Linked DNA regions of Homo sapiens. The main gene of each other region encodes a partner of the protein of the gene in region 3 in a complex. Each region holds a gene or a part of one and is shown on either strand. Other genes may lie near its edges. The genes, in order: TFDP1, RBL1 and MYBL1.

What was found.
Region 1: MYBL1 (region 3) and TFDP1 share a complex: the UniProt entries of both Homo sapiens proteins name them as parts of the DREAM complex.
Region 2: MYBL1 (region 3) and RBL1 share a complex: the UniProt entries of both Homo sapiens proteins name them as parts of the DREAM complex.

Annotation. Positions count from the first base shown.
Region 1 is NC_000013.11:113,629,641-113,633,461, reverse strand, and holds part of TFDP1 (transcription factor Dp-1), read right to left. Parts: exon of another isoform or gene 2,160-3,821; intron 1,840-2,159; coding exon 1,718-1,839; intron 343-1,717; coding exon 177-342; intron 1-176. UniProt on the Homo sapiens protein: Can stimulate E2F-dependent transcription.
Region 2 is NC_000020.11:37,068,279-37,072,099, forward strand, and holds part of RBL1 (retinoblastoma-like protein 1), read right to left. Parts: intron 1-3,821. UniProt on the Homo sapiens protein: Key regulator of entry into cell division. Directly involved in heterochromatin formation by maintaining overall chromatin structure and, in particular, that of constitutive heterochromatin by stabilizing histone methylation.
Region 3 is NC_000008.11:66,611,304-66,614,903, forward strand, and holds the start of MYBL1 (myb-related protein A), read right to left. Parts: upstream 1,916-3,600; 5' UTR 1,536-1,915; coding exon 1,516-1,535; intron 1,491-1,515; exon of another isoform or gene 1,270-1,490; coding exon of another isoform or gene 1,211-1,269; intron 1-1,210. UniProt on the Homo sapiens protein: Transcription factor that specifically recognizes the sequence 5'-YAAC[GT]G-3'.

The DNA.
Region 1 (3,821 bases), on a different chromosome or scaffold from region 3:
GCCACCCCAGCCTCTCGGCCCCGGCACACACTTACTGACTCGTTTGGTAAAAATTCTTTTATGCTGTACTTGGCATTTTCTGTATGGTTTTAACTGTTCCCGATATTAAAAGAGCGAAACGTACCACACCGCTGGGCTCCGCCACCCCAGCCTCTCGGCCCCCGGCACACACTTACTGACTCGTTTGGTAAGATGTGGTTGTCGGCAGCACTGAACTCCGCAACCAGCTCGTCTGCCACTTCGTTGTAGGAAGTGGTCCCTTTCCTCTGCACCTTCTCGCAGACCTTCATGGAGAAATGCCGTAGGCCCTTGCCATTCTTCTCTCCTTTCCTGTTGCGCTTCCTTCAAAATACAAAGGAAAAGAGAAGCGACTGTCAGCCCTCCTGAGGATCAGCCTGAATCGAGGAATGCTTTTACCTGAGAGCTCTAATGAGCTGCACAAAAAGGGGCCACGTCCCACGGGCGCAGCAGATCCAACACGTGAGCAGGCCAGGACCCCCTAGCCCCAGCCCCCAGGCCCAGTGGTCCTGCAGGTCAGAAAGCGAGTGTCTCCCCAGCAGGCTGCACCTCTAACCTTCCAAGCGTCAGGGAAAACGGGAGGCGTCCCCAGGACCCAAATCAGCATATGGGAGATGTGCCGGTACACCAAGCACCACTTTTCTTTTTGTTGTTGTTTTTTCTTTTTTGAGACGGAGTCTCGCTCTGTCGTGGGCTGGAGTGCGGTGGCGCCATCTCGGCTCACTGCAACCTCCACCTCCTGGGTTCAAGCGATTCTCCTGCCTCAGCCTCCCGAGTAGCTGGGATTACAGGCACGTGCCACCACATCTGGCTAATTTTTTTGTATTTTTAATAGAGACGGGGTTGCACCACGTTGGCCAGGATGGTCTCAATCTCTTGAACTCGTGATCTGCTGGCCTCGGCCTCTAGGATTACAGGCGTGAGCCCCAAGCACCACTTTTCTAAAGAGGGCAGCCAGAATCAGGAACTATGGGACGTTTCAGTGTAAATTTGGGAATTCTTAGGACTAATTTCAGCAGGCTGTAATTTCATACAGCTTGGGCTGTGACAGCCGCTTGACAACAGGTGCAAAGCACTAAGTGTGCTTCAGGTCGAGGGAAAGCCCAACTCTGTACACTCTGGTCAGTCCCCACATGGCGGGAAAGGCCACCTGAGGTTCCTAGCTGGTGAAGCTTTGGGCACCAACACAGGCAGGCTTTTGCAGCTTTGCGTGTGTGTGTTTTTAAGGAAAGACACAGCTCATCAGATCTTGCTTTAGTGGAAGGAGCAGCTCTGGCGGGACCACCCGCGGGGGCCGTAACCCCAGGGGCAGTAGAGGCTGAATTCAGGGGCAGTGGGTGAAATCCATCCCACATGCTCCCAGCACAGACGAGGGAAAGTCTCCGAGGTCCTGTGGCGAGTACGAGGCCAGCTTCTCCCCGTCTTGGCCAAGAGCTGCCAGCCCTTCAGAGAGCACCCACTACACCAGACACAAAGCGGGGTGGGCGGTGCCCAGCCCGACTTCTCCATGACCGAGGCAGTGCGCCTCGGCTGCACACCTGTGCAGGCCACGATGATGGGTGAGTGTGATTCGGAGGCTGGCGTCAACGCGCGTGGGAGCCCCATCGCACGACTGTGTGACACACGTGGCCCAGGAGAACGTGGAGGTGCGAACCGCAAGCAGTCCTACAACTCTAAGGGTCCAGAGGGAAGTGCTCACCCGGCAGACCAAGGTGAGGAGTCGGAAGGCTGGTTCTGAGAGGCAAAGTGAGTGCTGGGGGTGTGTGGGCTTCCTACCACCAGGGTGTTTGACGCTGCCGGTCTCTGAGGCGTACCAATTACCTACAGTCGAAAAAGACAATTCAGACAGTCAGTCCCCTCCCACACGGCGAGGGTGCCATGCCCACCATCTGTTCGCTATCCGCAGCCACTGCTGAATTTCCTTAACCACAGTGAGCAGCCATGACGGAGCAGGAAAAACGTCCAGCGGTGGACGCTTTTGTCACGGTGACGGCATCACCCCACCGGTTCTGAATGTGGCTCATCTTCCTCTTGTCAGTCACAGGCATCTTCTCCAATTAGACAAAAGCAACAAGAAACTTCGGACGACCCAAGCAAGCAAGAACAGGACAGGGCAGAGCGTGACCCCCAAACCGCACACAAGGCGCTAACGGTCAAGTTTAATGAAGGGGGCGGCACAGAATTCCACACAGGGCACTTGAGCACGCTTCCATTTTTCCCTTCACCCTTTTACTTCCTTTTAGTGATATGGATGAGGATGAAATTGTATCCTTCTGTGGTACTAAAAAGAGGCCTGAAACAAACCAAAAACAGCTCTCAAAAGACAAAAGCACAGGCAGGGTGACAGCAGCTGCTCCTCCAGCCCAGCAGGGTGACAGCCATCACCTGGTAACCCTGTGCCCTGGGGCCCTGTCTGGGGGAACCCCTGCACCCACAACGGCGTCAGGCAAGGAGGGAGGGCCACCAGCACTGGGGGCGGAAGGTAGGGGCTCCACACGCCCCTGGGGCTCACACACCTGGGCCCCTCTGGGGGGAACCACCAGAGGCAACGCCAGTGTGGACACTGACCCACCCGCCCCACCCCACAGCACACCTGAGGGTGTCAACAACTGTCTCTCCCTTCAGGGACATGCTGGCTGGTCTGACTCTTGACAAGGTCTTACCACTTTAGTTCCAACAATGAATGTTCGAGTGTGAATACCTGGACACCCTCATACAGGCAAATACAACTCTGACTTTTCAAAGATCTTGTGGCACGACTCTATCTAAACTGGAAACACTATTTCTCAGTAAATGTTAAATCATTCAATTCACCACAAATCAAAGTGCCTCAGCGATTATACTGCTTGTATGGACATGCAGTTTCCGTTAAAGGGATTGGAGCTGGACACCTGTATGCTGGCGGGGGGGCTTCATGTGGCCGATGCCCTGAGCTACTCTAAGCTGGGCCCCCCCAGCTCCCCTTCTTACGGGGATAAATGCATCACCTGCGGTGGCCCTGGGAGCAGCTGACGGGGACACTTTCCAATTATCCCTAGGCCAGATCACCTGTCAGCTCCGGAGAAGAAAAACATTTCAAGGACTGATCTTTTCATTGACACTCATCTCTCCGATGATCAGAGACTCATCAGAGTGCGGCCTTCTGTGGATCACCAGGCCATGAAATCAAACAAGTGAATTTTCTGCAAAATGAAGCCATACAAAAGATAAATCTCCTGGGCGTGGATAAATGTCCTGTGAAACTTGTTTTGTTCAATACGCGTGTGTGTGTGTGTGTGTGTGTGTGTGCTGCTGGGGCACTGGGCCACGTGGGAGATCCAAACAGCTGACAAAAGGACCCTGCCACTCAGGCTGCCTGAGAGCGCGCTGGCCCCGCACGGCTTCCTACGTTGAGTTCAGCAGATGCCATTCTCCGGGAGTTGATGTCAGACTGAGAACCCGCCAGCTCCACGCCAGGCAGTGCTGGCTGGCTCCGCGCATACCACACGCACAGGTACAGGGGGCTGGAGAATCCCACACACGATTCTAACCCACCTCATGGGTCCACTCCCTTCCCCAGGAATCCCAGGACCACGCAAGGCACTGGATCTTGGCCCCAAAACAGATGCCGTCACCGTGCCGCTGTCCTCCAGGCAGGAGCAAACCTACTCACAAAGAGTGGACTTACAACGAGGAACTGACTTACAACGAGGAACTTACAAGGAACATCCCGATAAACCCGCATGAGCTGAAAATACCCTAAGTCGAAATGCACGTCATCCACCTCTCCTACCACACATCACAGCTTAGCCAGCCTACCTTAC
Region 2 (3,821 bases), on a different chromosome or scaffold from region 3:
TATTAAAAAGCCAGATTTCCCAGGCAACATAGTTAAGACCCCATCTCTACAAAAATTTAAAAAATTAGCTGGGTGTGGTGGCATGTGCCTGTAGCCCCAGGTACTTGGGAGGCTGAGGTGGGAGAATTGCTTGAGCCCAGGATGTCGAGACTGCAGTTAGCCTCAATCATGTACTCCAGCCCGGGTGACAAAGCAAGACACTGTCTTACATGAACAAAGAACAAACACCATCCCTCAAGCCTAAATTTAATTAAAAAAAAAAAGTCCTCACTATGAAATCACTTTCGTTCCCAGGATCACCAGGGGAATACAGGTTATTAATTAGTGGTCATCACATAGAGTTTACTGCTATGGAGGGAGCGAGAGCACCTATCTACTTCCTTTATTCTCTATATTACCTAGACAATATTTTGCATAAAATTTACAAAGTTAATGTTAGTTAACAGATTGACAGGTTATAAAATTAGTTTGAGATCACCTGAGATCGGGAGTTCAAGACACAGCCTGAGCAACATGAAGAAACCCCGTCTCTACTACAAATACAAAATTAGGAGCTCTCCCTCTCCCTCTCCCCACGGTCTCCCTCTCCCTCTCTTTCCACGGTCTCCCTCTCATGCTGAGCCGAAGCTGGACTGTACTGCTGCCATCTCGGCTCACTGCAACCTCCCTGCCTGATTCTCCTGACTCAGCCTGCCGAGTGCCTGCGATTGCAGGCTCGGGCCGCCACGCCTGACTGGTTTTGGTGGAGACGGGGTTTCGCTGTGTTGGCCAGGCCGGTCTCCAGCCCCTAACCGCAAGTGATCCGCCAGCCTCGGCCTCCCGAGGTGCCGGGATTGCAGACGGAGTCTGGTTCACTCAGTGCTCAATGGTGCCCAGGCTGGAGTGCAGTGGCGTGATCTCGGCTCGCTACAACCTCCACCTCCCAGCCGCCTGCCTTGGCCTCCCAAAGTGCCAAGATTGCAGCCTCTGCCCAGCTGCCACCCCGTCTGGGAAGTGAGGAGCGTCTCTGCCTGGCCGCCCATCGTCTGGGATGTGAGGAGCCCCTCTGCCTGGCTGCCCAGTCTGGAAAGTGAGGAGCGTCTCCGCCCGGCCGCCATCCCACCTAGGAAGTGAGGAGCACCTCTTCCTCGCCGCCATCCCATCTAGGAAGTGAGGAGCGTCTCTGCCCAGCCGCCCATCGTCTGAGATGTGGGGAGCGCCTCTGCCCCGCCACCCCGTCTGGGATGTGAGGAGCACCTCTGCCCGGCTGCGACCCCGTCTGGGAGGTGAGGAGCATCTCTGCCCGGCCGCCCCGTCTGAGAAGTGAGGAGACCCTCTGCCCGGCAACCGCCCCGTCTGAGAAGTGAGGAGCCCCTCCGCCCGGCAGCCGCCCCGTCTGAGAAGTGAGGAGCCTCTCCGCCCGACAGCCACCCAGTCTGGGAAGTGAGGAGCGTCTCCGCCTGGCAGCCACCCAGTCCGGGAGGGAGGTGGGGGGGGTCAGCCCCCCGCCAGGCCAGCACCCCCATCCGGGAGGGAGGTGGGGGGGTCAGCCCCCTGCCAGGCCAGCCGCCCTGTCCGGGAGGGAGGTGGGGGGGTCAGCCCCCCGCCCGGCCAGCCGCCCCGTCCAGGAGGTGAGGGGCGCCTCTGCCCAGCTGCCCCTACTGGGAAGTGAGGAGCCCCTCTGCCCGGCCACCACCCCGTCTGGGAGGTGTGCCCAACAGCTCATTGAGAACGGGCCAGGATGACAATGGCGGCTTTGTGGAATAGAAGGGCGGGAAAGGTGGGGAAAAGATTGAGAAATCGAATGGTTGCCGTGTCTGTGTAGAAAGAAGTAGACATGGGAGACTTTTCATTTTGTTCTGTACTAAGAAAACTTCTTCTGCCGTGGGATCCTGTTGATCTGTGACCTTACCCCCAACCCTGTGCTCTCTGAAACAAGTGCTGTGTCCACTCAGGGTTAAATGGATTAAGGGCGGTGCAAGATGTGCTTTGTTAAACAGATGCTTGAAGGCAGCATGCTCCTTAAGAGTCATCACCACTCCCTAATCGCAAGTTCCCAGGGACACAAACACCGCGGAAGGCCGCAGGGTCCTCTGCCTAGGAAAACCAGAGACCTTTGTTCACTTGTTTATCTGCTGACCTTCCCTCCACTATTGTCCTATGACCCTGCCAAATCCCCCTCTGTGAGAAACACCCGAGAATTATCAATAAAAAATAAATAAATTTAAAAAAAAAAACATAAAATAAAATAAAATTAGTTTGAGGGAAAACAGAAGTCTCCCAAATGGAAAGACAATTCCATTTTCCAAATGGGAATTTGATTACAAAGCACCAGATTGTTACAGGTTAGGAGTAAAATTCAAGAGTTTGAGTTCCAATGTGTGGTTCCACAACCAAAAGTAAAGAAGGTAGCACATACTCAGAAAAAAACTTAATAGTTCTGGTGCCCAGGTTGGAGTGCAGTGGCACCACCTTGGTTTACTGCAACTTCCACCTCCTGTGTTCAAGCAAGCCACCGTGCCCAGGCCAATTCTGGGTACATTTTTTTATGTCCCTATGTTAACGTGGTCTTAGATAGAAAACTTGTCATGTCAAAGCTCACTTAATTAAAGGTCTAGCAATATATACAGAATAATACTTGTAATTTTTTTTTTTTGAGATGGAGTCTCAGTCTGTCACCCAGGCTGGAGTGCAGTGGCATGATCTTGGCTCACTGCAACCTCTGCATCCCAGCTTCAAGCAATTTTCCTGCCTCTACCTCCTGACAGCTGGGACTACAGGTGCACACCACCATGCCTAGCTAATTTTTGTATTTTTAGTAGAGACAAGGTTTCACCATGTTTGCCAGGATGGTCTTGAACTCCTGACCTCAGATGATCCACCTGCCTCGGCCTCCCAAAGTGCTGGGATTACAGGCATGAACCACTGCACTCGGCCCTATGTTCTGATTATTTCATGTAGATTGGAAAGGCTTACTTGAGTCCATTTCGCCTGGCCAATACTTATAATTTCTTTTTAAGGTGACAGAAGACATTAATAGCAAATCATCCAAAGCTATTTAATGTGGTTTGGATGTTTTGTCCCCTCCAAATCTCATGTTGCAATGTAATTTCCTTGGCTGGGCATGGTAGCTCATGCCTGTAATCCCAACACTTTGGGAGGGTGAGGCTGGAGGATCACCTGAGCCCACCAGTTTGAGACCAGCTTGGGCAACACAGTGAGATCTCGTCTCTACAAAAAATTTAAAAGTTAGCAAAGCATGGTGGTGTGTGACTGTGGGCCCAGCTACTCAGGAAGCTGAGGCAGGAGGATCACTTGAGCCTGAGGGGTTGAAGCTGCAGTGAGTCATGAACATGCTACTGCCTGGGCAAGAGAGTGAAAGCCCGTCTCAAAAAAATAAAAAAGAAACGTGACCTCCAATGTTGGAGGTGGGCCTAGTGGGAGGTGTTTGGGTCATGGGAGCAGATCCCTCATGAATGGCTTGGTGCTCTCCTCATGGTAGTGAGTTTAGTTGTCACTCACCTGAGATCTGGCTGTTTAAAAGTGTGGCACTTCCCACCCTCAATTGCTCCTGCTCTCATCATGTGATGTGCCTCCTCCCCCTTCACCTACCGTGACTGTAAACTTCCTGAGGCCCTCACCAGGAGCAGATGCCAGCCCCATGCTTCCTATACGGCCTGCAGAACCCTGGGCCAAATAAATCTCTTTTTTTAAATAAGTCACCCAACCTCAGGTATTCCTTCATAGCAACGTAAAACGTCCTAATACAGCATTCAAACTCTGGACATGCTGATATAATCTGAGACTCTTAAGGACCTCATTAAAAGATTCTTACCAACAGC
Region 3 (3,600 bases):
TTAAATTTTTTTATATTTAAAAATTCAAAAAGCCTAAACCAGTACTTCGGCAATCATAATTACAAGAGCTTTAAATATCTATCTTTTCTGAAGATTGATGTTAATTGGGTCCTTGAAGTTCTAGAAGGGTGGTTCTTTCCTGGGTGATTTTGTCCCCCAAAAGATATTTGGCAATGTCTGGAGACATTTTTACTGTCATGACTGAGGGAAGTGGAGTGTTACTATCTCTACTGGGTAGAAGCCAGCGATGCTGCTAAACATCTCCCCATTACAAAGAATTATCTGGTCCAAGATGTCAATAGTGCAAAGGCTGAAAACAGTTTTAGAGGGGTCTGTGTACACATTTATTTCATCTCAAGAGTTTGTCCTATAACTTACTTCAAAACTAATAAGCTTACAGAGACTTAAGGATTTCTGCAGAAGCATCCTGCACACAGCAGATGCTTAACAGAAAACTAAGGAAAAAACAATTATGTATAGTTACTGCCAATTTTTAGCAGAACTCTGCAATGAATGACCCCCATTACTAAATTTCAACTTAGGAAATACATCTCTAGTTAAGATTTTGGGGCTGTGGATCTAGATAAATAAATATTTGGAAATCCTGCCAAACATCTTTTCAGGTTTATTTGATAATGCTGAAAATCGGAAGACATCCTATATTTTTGTTATCTAAGCAATTACTCCACATAATTTATGAGTAGCTGCTGTAATGGCATGTAAACGAAAATTAGATGCATAAATTCATCCTAGCACATTTTCCAGGCAAAGGTGGAAAAAAGTGCCTTACCTCTGTGGAACACTTAGGTACGGTCAGAGCCAAACACAGACACTCAAAATATTAAGTGAATCAAACACATTGTTTTATTTCAAGATCAAGCTACTAGTTGTTACTACTAGTTGTTACTATGTGACATGGTCCCAAGAGAGGATATTAAAATATACATATATACATAAAGCTGAGCATATGGGTATAGGAATTACAGAAAACATCAAAAAAGTCCTCTCAGCTATTCCCCAGAGGATTTTCCACAACGTTTCAAGATAGCCAAGTTGGCAGAGGGGTGGCCGCCCAGGTTCACCGCGGAGTTCCTATTTTGACTGTACCGTCATTCAGAAAAGAGTCGCCCGAACACCATTTTCAAGTCCTCCCGGCAGGACACAGTCAGTTTTCTCTGCGTAGCGGACTCCCTAAAAGCGCTCGACTTACCTGGCAAGAAACCTGCCTCGAAGAAGTGGCAGCATGAGGTCAGAAATCTGGACGCGCATTACGGGGAGAGTCACCGAGAAACCTGGGCATCTCTTACGTCCCGCGCCTCAAACACCCTGGTCCCCAACTCTCCACACGTCGCAGCTGCCCTCCGGTCATCGAGGCCAAGCGGCCGCGGGGACGCGGGAAGAAAAACCTCTGCCCTCGCCAGGGAGGGCCTTATGGCGGGAGGGGGCAGCGGGATAGGAAAGAGAATCTGAGCCGAGACGGCGCCGACAGGCCTGGGCGAAAGGGGTGCCACCCACCTGCGCGACCTCTTCGCCATCCTTCAAGTACCGCATAGGAGCAGGCTGGGCGGGGACGCGGGTCAGCCTCCTCCAGCCTCCGGCGAATGCTCCTTCTCCCCGATCCTCTAGCCGCTTCCCTCGCTCCCTCTGGAGGCGGCCGAGTGCGGAACGCACGTCCTCGACAGGGCAGGACGGAGGGACAGCGGGGGCGGACCGCGACCCGACCCCGACCCCGGCCCGCAGCGCCGCTCTTAGCCCCGGCCCGGCCCGGCCAGGGATACCCCCAACATGTCAGGAGGCGCGATCCCGCCCTCCGCCGGCTTCTCCCGCCGCTTGTCAGCCTCCCTGCCCTGGCCCCAGCCCGGCTCCGCCACAGGCGCCCGACCCCTGCCCTCTCCCCCGCAGCTAGCAGTTCTGCAGGGCTCGCAGTCTCCTGCAGGGTTTTGTCCGCACCGCCGAATCTCGCGCCCAGCCTCCCTCAAGAGCCGCCGTTTGAATCTGCGCACGCGGCCCTGAACCTCATTGGCTGTGGGGGCCGCACGCGAAGAAGCGAGGGCGGGGAGGGGAGAGCGCGCGCGGCTGAGGGCGGGGCTGGGGAGCTGGAAGCTGGGACTGGAACTCGCGGGAGTCGGGGAAGGAGCCGGGAGCCAGGGGGTGGGGCCGCGGGTGGGGCCGTAGGTGGCGCATGCGAGCCGAGCTGTCATAGGACCCGGAACGCGCCGAGAGGCGCACCGCGCGGGGCCTGCTGGGAGAGCGAGTTCCTGCGCTCGCCGAGGAGTGGGTCCGGAAGCGGCGCCGGAGCGGGTCCGGAAGCGGGCGGTGGAGAAGTCCAGTTGCCCCAAAATTCTTAGGGTGAGCGAACCGAGTTTCTGGCGGGGTGGGTGGTCCCGCGGCCCACCAAGGGAACGTCTCCGCAGCCTCGCCTCGGCGACAGCTCCTGGCTCCTTAGGTGTCTTCCGCCTCACTAGTTAGGATGCGCGGTCTTCAGACTTGAGACAAATCTAACCATAAATTTGCGCGGCCGTTATTTTTTAAGCAAAAATGTGAGCTATTTTTACCCAGACATCATAGTTACGAGAGTGACGAAGACTCTGGCAGGAAACCAAATATCACCTGTTTTCCTCAAAAAGCAGCAGAAGAGTGACAAGTGAAAAAAGTTCCTAGCGGGAGACGTGCTTGGAACCGGAGATAATCTGTGTCTACCGCTGGTCTTCAAGGTGCTTAATTTCGTGCCCGCTCTACAGGAAATAACGTGCGCGGCGGAGGAGCCCTGTCCTGGAGAATAACGCGTGAAGAAGACAGTGGACTGGGCATTTCGTCCAGATGAATGAGCATGGTAGTTAAGTGTAGAAGGTGACCTTCTTCCCTCTGGAGAGACCAGGGAGGGGGGAACCACCGGAGGAGTTTCTAGCGGTTGCAGCTACTTGAGGTTCCAGTCTAATAACTACGAACTGTTCATTTCAAGTAGCATTAAAGTAGATTTGCTACAGTAACAATTACACTTGGCTAAGGAAAATTTGCAAGGCAACATGGTCTATTGCATAGAGCACTGAGCCACATGTTAACACTGTAACAAACACTTGCTATTTTGAAATTTTACGCTTCATCTTTTGCAAATCAGATGCAGGTGCAGAGTGAATTAAGAGGAGCTGAATTAAGAGAGAAGCTTGCATGCACTGCTGTCAAAACCTAAACACACTGGCTTTTTTTTTTTTAACAGTTCCTTTTTTCAAGGTATAGATTCTGGGAAGGTAAGGGAAGATAAAACAGCTTTTCTTTTTCTCTCCTGTTTTTTTTTTTGTTGTTTTTTTTTTGAGACTAGGTCTCACTCTATTCCCCATGCTGGAGTGCAGTGGCACAATCATAGCTTACAGTAGCCTCGAACAGCGATCCTCTTGCCTCAGCCTCCAAAGTAGCTGGGACTACAGGCGCGCGCCACAACACCTGGCCAAGCGTTTCTTCCAGATCATTCCTTACTGGGTTGCTGGTTCAGTAAAAATAAAAAAATAAAAAATAATTTAGAAATGAGTTCCCAAATTTCATTATGTTCCCAATGTCATTTGGAATCACTGTTTCACTGTTTTCTTATTTACCCCTGGGTCG